Homo sapiens: one gene and its partner. The protein of the gene in region 1 purifies or fractionates together with the protein of each later gene. This does not show direct contact. Each region holds a gene or a part of one and is shown on either strand. Other genes may lie near its edges. The genes, in order: SHPK and LRP4.

Region 1 (3,811 bases):
CCTGAAAAGGCAAATGATTGTTCAAAAAGAACTTAAAAGGCATCCTTCAAGCCTACTATCTCTAGTTCTTTTTTCTTTTTTTTTTTTTTTGAGACAAGAGTCTCGCTCTGTCCCCCAGGCTGGAGTGCCGTGGTGCAATCTCGGCTCACCGCAACCTCCGCCTCCCAGGTTCAAGTGATTCTCCTGCCTCAGCCTCCAGAGTAGCTGGGATTACAGGCGCACTCCACCACGCCCAGCTAATTTTTGTATTTTTAGTAGAGATGGGGTTTCGCCATGTTGCCCAGGCTGGTCTCGAACTCCTGACCTCAGGTGATTCACCCGCCTCAGCCTCCCAAAGTGCTGGGATTACAGGCATGAGCCACCGCGCCTGGCTCTCTAAGTTTAAGTATTAAAGAGTGAAAGCTGTACTCTGAAACCTACAGACTGGGCTCATGGTCACAGAGAAGGGAGAGCCCACCTGGGGTCTGGGCGGCTGTGGAGGAGCAGGACAGCATGGCTGAGGCCCCTACCCAAGGGCTCAGGGCTGTGCTTACACTGGGCCCATCCATGCCCCGTGTCTGGGACAGGCCAGGGGCACTGGACCCTGATCCTGGCCTCTGGGAACCCTCCACCACTCCCAGATGGGAAAGCACCCACTGAAGCACTGGCTCCGGGGTTGCCCTTCAGATTGGAGCAGGAGGAACAGCCTGCAAGGATGTGATACTCACGTCTCTACGTTCCAGCTTTGGCTCTGCGTGTTGAAATAGCCCCAGCTGGCAGCATTCTGGTCGGACATCAGAGGTCTTGGCAAGCCACACAGCATGGCAACCACATAGTCGTGGATGGTACCGGCTGCGTCGTAGGACTTCAGGAACTCTGGGCTGTTTTTCATACCAAAAACAACCAACACGGTATAACATGAACTCGGAAGCATGTGCCGCACCTAGCTGCAGGCAGCAGGGACCAGCTGTGCCATGGCCAGGTGGCAGCCACAACCGCATATACTATGGCTCAAGTCCAGCTGGGTCCCTGGGATTAGGACCTCCCAGCTGCCCCAAGCAAAGCCAGCCTAAGTCAGCCCCAGGGGAAGGGCCTGAGAGGAGGAAGTGTCAAGCCTGGAAAAGCAGACGTCAGCCTCCTCAGCAGCCTCGCAGGCCTGAACACACTGCGAACTCTCCCCGTGACCCTCGGCAAGTCACTTGCCCTCTCTGTTCCCTCCTTTCCCTATGTGGGTGGGAACTGGATAACCAATAGAGAGCCCTCTGCAAAAGGACGTGGTTCTGGACCCAATCGAGGTCCAGGCCATGCTGCATCCTGTCCTGCCAGGACACACTCACTGCGGCACAGCCCAGCAGGCGGGGTGATGCTGACGCAGCCCCGGCCTATTCTCATTCTCCCGGAAACCCAGCACCCGAGTGAAAGTGCAGTTGCCCGTACCGATATTTCAAAAGCCAGAAGATGGTTGCACAGCCGAAGCCCGTGGCCACACTGAGATGAGACTTCGGCTGGGGCAGAGAGGCCAGGAATTCGCTGCTACATCGGCCATCCTGCCACGTGACCAGGTGGCTAACAGCTCGGGGCTCGAACACCGGGGTAATCCCTCCCTCTGTCCATTCACAGCCTGGAACAAAAGAGATGACCAAAAATGAAGAAAAGAGCAAATGACTAGGCATGGCGCGGCCTTGATACTACTCTGCTGGTGAGTGACAAAATATGTGCGAATCGTCCCATGATAAAGCCTGGCACACCTATGGGTCCTGATAGCACTGGCTTTAGTACTTGGCTCTACCACATAATGACTGTGGGACCCTGGGCACGTCACATACTCCCTCCATTTGCCCCACTTCTCTGTTTGTTTTTATTCTTTTTTGAAGTTGATATCATATCTCCCCACATCTCAGAAGATGTTTGGCACAATCTCAAGTCCCCTGGTCTCTGTCCCTCCAACCCTCATCATGACATTATCTAGGCTTACTGCTACTTGATTACCAGTAAATTTTCTCTTTTCCTTAGTTCTTAGCTGATTGCGTTTTATTTTATTTTATTTTATTTTAATTTTTTCAGACAGAGTCTCATTGTGTCCCCCAGGTTGGAATGCAGTGGCATGATCCCGGCTCACTGCAACCTCCATCTCCCAGGTTCAAGCGATTCTCCTGCTTCAGCCTCCCGAGTAGCTGAGACTACAGGCCCACGCCACCACGCCCAGCTAATTTTTTGGACTTTCAGTAGAGACAGGGTTTCATCATGCTGCCCAGGCTGGTCTCGAACTCCTGAGCTCAGGCAATCCACCCACCTCAGCCTCCCAAAGTGCTAGGATTACAGGCATGAGCCACCGCACCTGGCCCTGATTGATTTTTAGACATCCAAATTTACTTTAAAATCATCTGACCGTCAGATTTTTTTTCATTTGTGCCTTGTGACATCCTCTGGATTTTTCTCTGCCCTTATTCAGTGATTTCTCCCAAGGCCAATTTCAGTGTCAGTCTTTCCAGGCAGTGTCTGAAGGCCCAGATGCCACCAAATATTTCTCATGTTCCCATCTTTAAATGCCAGTTTGATTAGTTATAATAGTCTGGTTCTAAGTTCCTTCCCTTCAATGCTTAAAAGCACTTTTTGTGGTCGATTGTTGCAAATTCTTCACTACTCCTCCCATTAAGAGGTGGCATCTGAATCCTCTTTCCTTGAATATAGAATCACCTTGGTGACGTGCTTGACCAGGAGAATGTGGAGGCAGTCACATCTTGGGACTCCCAAGGCTAGGTCATAAGAAGTACTGCAGCTCCCGCCCAAGCCTCTTACACCAGTCTCTCTGGGGGAATCAGCCTTCAGGTAAGAAGTGCGACTACGCCGAGGCCGCCATGCTGAGGAGACCACGGGCAAAGAGCAGCCGGCAGACCGTTTCCAGGTGAGCCCAGCCTCCAGCCTTCCCACCAAGGTACCAGGCATTGAGTAAAGCCACCGTGACCCCCTGGACCAGTCTGTCCACCAGTTGAACACTAACAAGCAACCTCCACCACCACCATGCAGAAGCAGCAGTGGGCTGAGCCCTGCCCAACCCCTGACCCAAAAAATCATGACAGATGATAAATGCTTGTTGCTTTCAGTCACTAGGTTGGAGGTAGTTTGTTGTGCCGCAATAGGTCATCAAAATACTACTCCTGGTCAGGCACGGTGGCTCACGCCTATAATCCCAGCACTTCGGGAGGCCAAGGTGGGCGGATCACCTGAGGTGAGGAGTTCGAGACCAGCCTGGACAACATGGCGAAACCCCATCTCTACAAAAAATACAAAAATTAGCCAGGTGTGGTAGCGGGTGCCTGTAATCCCAGCTACTCCGGAGGCTGAGGCAGGAGAATCGCTTGAACCCAGTAGGCGGAGGTTGCAGTGAGCTGAGATCGCACCACTGCACTCCAGCCTGGGCAACAGAGTGAGGCTCCATCTCAGAAAAACAAAACAAACAAAAAAATGCTACTCCATTGTCTTTTCACACAGAATGCTGCTGTTGAAAAAAATCTAATGTCAATCTGATCCTTATTCTTTCATATGGGATCTGATCTTTTGCTCTGTAAGCTTTTGGAATTCTGTCTTTGAAATCCTTAAAAGTTCACTAGAATATATCTAGCTGGGGGTTGTCTTTATCTCCTCTTTGACATTCTATGGGCCCTTTCAGGCTGGGGTGTTCTATCTTATGTTGTCAATTATAGGAAATTTTTCTCCATTATTTCTTCAAAGATTTCCTCCTCTCCATTTTTATTTTTCCCTTTCTGGTCTCTTATGATTTAGATGCTAGTGCTTCTGTTTGTATCCTCAATACCTCTTAGCTCATCGGGCG
Region 2 (3,811 bases), on another chromosome or scaffold:
GGCGCCTCTGCCTGGCCGCCCCTACTGGGAAGTGAGGAGCCCCTCTGCCCGGCCAGCCGCCCCATCCAGGAGGGAGGTGGGGGGGTCAGCCCCCCGCCCGGTCAGCCACCCCGTCCGGGAGGGAGGTGGGGGGGTCAGCCCCCCGCCCGGCCAGCCGCCCCGTCCGGGAGGGAGGTTGGGGGGTCAGCCCCCCGCCCGGCCAGCCGCCCCGTCCGGGAGGTGAGGGGCGCCTCTGCCCGGCCGCCCCTACTGGGAAGTGAGGAGCCCCTCTGCCAGGCCACCACCCCGTCTGGGAGGTGTACCCAACAGCTCATTGAGAACGGGCCATGATGACAATGGCGGTTTTGTGGAATAGAAAGGAGGGAAAGGTGGGGAAAAGATTGAGAAATCGGATGGTTGCCGTGTCTGTGTAGAAAGAAGTATACATGGGAGACTTTTCATTTTGTTCTGTACTAAGAAAAATTCTTCTGCCTTGGGATCCTGTTGATCTGTGACCTTACCCCCAACCCTGTGCTCTCTGAAACATGTGCTGTGTCCACTCAGGGTTAAATGGATTAAGGGCGGTGCAAGATGTGCTTTGTTAAACAGATGCTTGAAGGCCGCATGCTCGTTAAGAGTCATCACCACTCCCTAATCTCAAGTACCCAGGGACACAAACACTGCGGAAGGCCGCAGGGTCCTCTGCCTAGGAAAACCAGAGACCTTTGTTCACTTGTTTATCTGCTGACCTTCCCTCCACTATTGTCCTATGACCCTGCCAAATCCCCCTCTGCGAGAAACACCCAAGAATGATAATAAAAAAATTAAAAAATAAAAAAAAATAAAAATAAAAAAATAAAAAGAAAAAAAAAAAAAGACAAACAGGCCACTACCCATAAATCTTGAAGACACTGGGTAAGACCACCACCATGTACAGTTGTGTAGGTTGTGCACTGTGCAGAGGCAATATGTCCAAAGGGAAGCCAGTCACATAATAGATTTATATACTCATCATGGCAGTTTTCCAGCAGATGGCAGTAAAGTGTCTTGAGGAAAGGATACTTTTTTCTGATTCACACAAAGACACTATATAGACCAGCTGTGATCCCGGTGTCAAGAGTGGCATGGGTACTGATATAAGCTGCAGATTTGGGTGGCAGGGAGAATTTCAGGCTGAAATGGGGCCCACCTTTCATTAAGCCTTTGCTTTGCCCAGCCACCTCCATGTGTACGGCAGAACAGTTCCGCTGTCACTCAGGCCGCTGTGTCCGCCTGTCCTGGCGCTGTGATGGGGAGGACGACTGTGCAGACAACAGCGATGAAGAGAACTGTGAGAATACAGGTGGTGTCTCCCGGGGTGCCCCAGAACCCTTAGCCTATAGTTGGGGTGGAAGGGTGGAAAAGAGGGTGCTTTGGTATCTTTCCAGTTGGGTTGAGGTTTTACCAGTGTAAAATCCAGGTGCATCATTGACCTGCGGCCTTATGGCCTGGAGCACAGTATCAGAGCTGCGAGTTTCAATTGCCACTCCTATTCTAACTCACACACAGCCAGTGCCTTTAGCTCTGGTCTAGTGAGGAAGGACTACCCTCCATCTGGCAGCCCCCATGTGTGCTCCCCTGGCCACACCCAGTATTGAGCATGTGGTTGCACTTTTTCATTCTGTTCCATATTCCTCACCATCCCACTGTGGAGTCCTGGGGAGAAAGCAAATGCAGACATTCAGCCAGCCCTGTCTGAGCTGCTTCCTGCCCAGGACCCTCACCCTCCCACCTTGAGTCTCATCTGTCTCCAGCTTACCCTAGAAAATGACAGGCTCCCATCTCTTTGTTGGCCCAAGCCCTGCCTTGCTATGACCTGACCCTCCATCTCTCTAGGAAGCCCCCAATGTGCCTTGGACCAGTTCCTGTGTTGGAATGGGCGCTGCATTGGGCAGAGGAAGCTGTGCAACGGGGTCAACGACTGTGGTGACAACAGCGACGAAAGCCCACAGCAGAATTGCCGTGAGTGTCCCCAGTGGGCGGACCTGGCCCATGGTTTGTGGCCGAACCCCACCCATAGGGTTCAAAGGGAATCCTCCCTCAGGACTCTTGCAGCTTTGGGAGCTGTTCTTTGTGGTCCAGGTGGAATGCCAAGTTGGCTCTCTGGGGGAGGATTCTGGGCTCAACTCCCAACTCTGGCTTGGCTGGCACAGGGCCCCGGACGGGTGAGGAGAACTGCAATGTTAACAACGGTGGCTGTGCCCAGAAGTGCCAGATGGTGCGGGGGGCAGTGCAGTGTACCTGCCACACAGGCTACCGGCTCACAGAGGATGGGCACACGTGCCAAGGTGAGCTGGGGCCTGGTTTGCAGCAGAGTCGGGGTTCTGAGCAGGGGCAGCAGACAGGCAGCTGTGTTTCCTATGGGTCAGGCATTTGAACGGTGTGACCTCATTTCGTCCTCACAATAACCCTAGGAGGTGGGGATCATCCTTCCCATTTCACAGATGGGGAGACTGAAGCACAGAGAGGATAAGTAGCTTACCAAAGGCCACACAGCTGGCGAGTAGCAGAGTTGGGATTCCAGCCCAGGTCTGCATGACCTTAAAGCCCTTAACCATTTCTTCTTTTTTATTTTTTATTTTTATTTTTTTGAGATGGAGCCTCGCTCTGTCGCCCAGGCTGGAGTGCAGTGGTGCGATCTCGGCTCACTGCAGCCTCCGCCTCCTGGGTTCAAGCCATTCTCCTGCCTCAGCCTCTTGAGTAGCTGGGACTACAGGTGTGCGCCACCACGCCCGGCCGCCCTTAACCATTTCTTAGACAGCCTTCCCACTAGGCCTGGAAAGTAGATGGGGATGTGGGCAGAAAAGCAGCTCGGCAGCCTGGGAGCGGGAGTGGGAGGACGACAGAAGGGAGATCTCTTGACCTGCCTGGTGTTCCCAGATGTGAATGAATGTGCCGAGGAGGGGTATTGCAGCCAGGGCTGCACCAACAGCGAAGGGGCTTTCCAATGCTGGTGTGAAACAGGCTATGAACTACGGCCCGACCGGCGCAGCTGCAAGGCTCTGGGTAAGGGCTGTTGGCACTTGGCTGGGTGGGCAGAGGGCCGAGCATGGAGGAAGGCCAGGTACTCTGGTGCTCAGGGATTTGCAGAGAGGTAGAGAGATTTCTGTCACAGTAAAATGCAGCAACAGTTGCATTCTGAGCCCCAAGAAAAATGCTGCTGGGGTGGAGTGGGGTGGGGAGGGGTGGAGGAATATAGTTTAAAGGTTGCCACTCTTCTGGTACTGATGCTGACAGCTTGGGGCATGTCCTTGTGAGCAAGTGGCTCCATCGGTCAGCTGAAGACCTGCTGATGGGTACCAGGGGCGGCTCTGAAACCCAGTGGGTATCCCATGTTTATACTGTTTCCCAGGGCCAGAGCCTGTGCTGCTGTTCGCCAATCGCATCGACATCCGGCAGGTGCTGCCACACCGCTCTGAGTACACACTGCTGCTTAACAACCTGGAGAATGCCATTGCCCTTGATTTCCACCACCGCCGCGAGCTTGTCTTCTGGTCAGATGTCACCCTGGACCGGATCCTCCGTGCCAACCTCAACGGCAGCAACGTGGAGGAGGTTGTGTCTACTGGGCTGGAGAGCCCAGGTAGGGAACAAGGCCCCATGGAGAGGGGCAGAGCCATGCCACATGCGCAGCAACGGTGGGAGGAATAGGCCAGTGGTTTGCAAACCTTAGGCAGCAGGACATCTTTTTCTTCCAGGGAAATCTTAGTTGGAGCCCTAATATAGAAAACATTTGTTAATGTATATCAATTTTATAGGTTCAAATATAACATTTGCTCATGATTGAGCTCAA

Evidence for each region.
Region 2: the proteins of SHPK (region 1) and LRP4 purify together in Homo sapiens (affinity purification with mass spectrometry; one large-scale study listed by BioGRID and IntAct). This does not show direct contact.

Annotation. Positions count from the first base shown.
Region 1 is NC_000017.11:3,622,632-3,626,442, forward strand, and holds part of SHPK (sedoheptulokinase), read right to left. Parts: intron 1,601-3,811; coding exon 1,417-1,600; intron 861-1,416; coding exon 708-860; intron 1-707. UniProt on the Homo sapiens protein: Acts as a modulator of macrophage activation through control of glucose metabolism.
Region 2 is NC_000011.10:46,894,379-46,898,189, reverse strand, and holds part of LRP4 (low-density lipoprotein receptor-related protein 4 precursor), read left to right. Parts: intron 1-1,195; coding exon 1,196-1,321; intron 1,322-1,854; coding exon 1,855-1,980; intron 1,981-2,171; coding exon 2,172-2,306; intron 2,307-2,898; coding exon 2,899-3,024; intron 3,025-3,370; coding exon 3,371-3,601; intron 3,602-3,811. UniProt on the Homo sapiens protein: Mediates SOST-dependent inhibition of bone formation. Functions as a specific facilitator of SOST-mediated inhibition of Wnt signaling.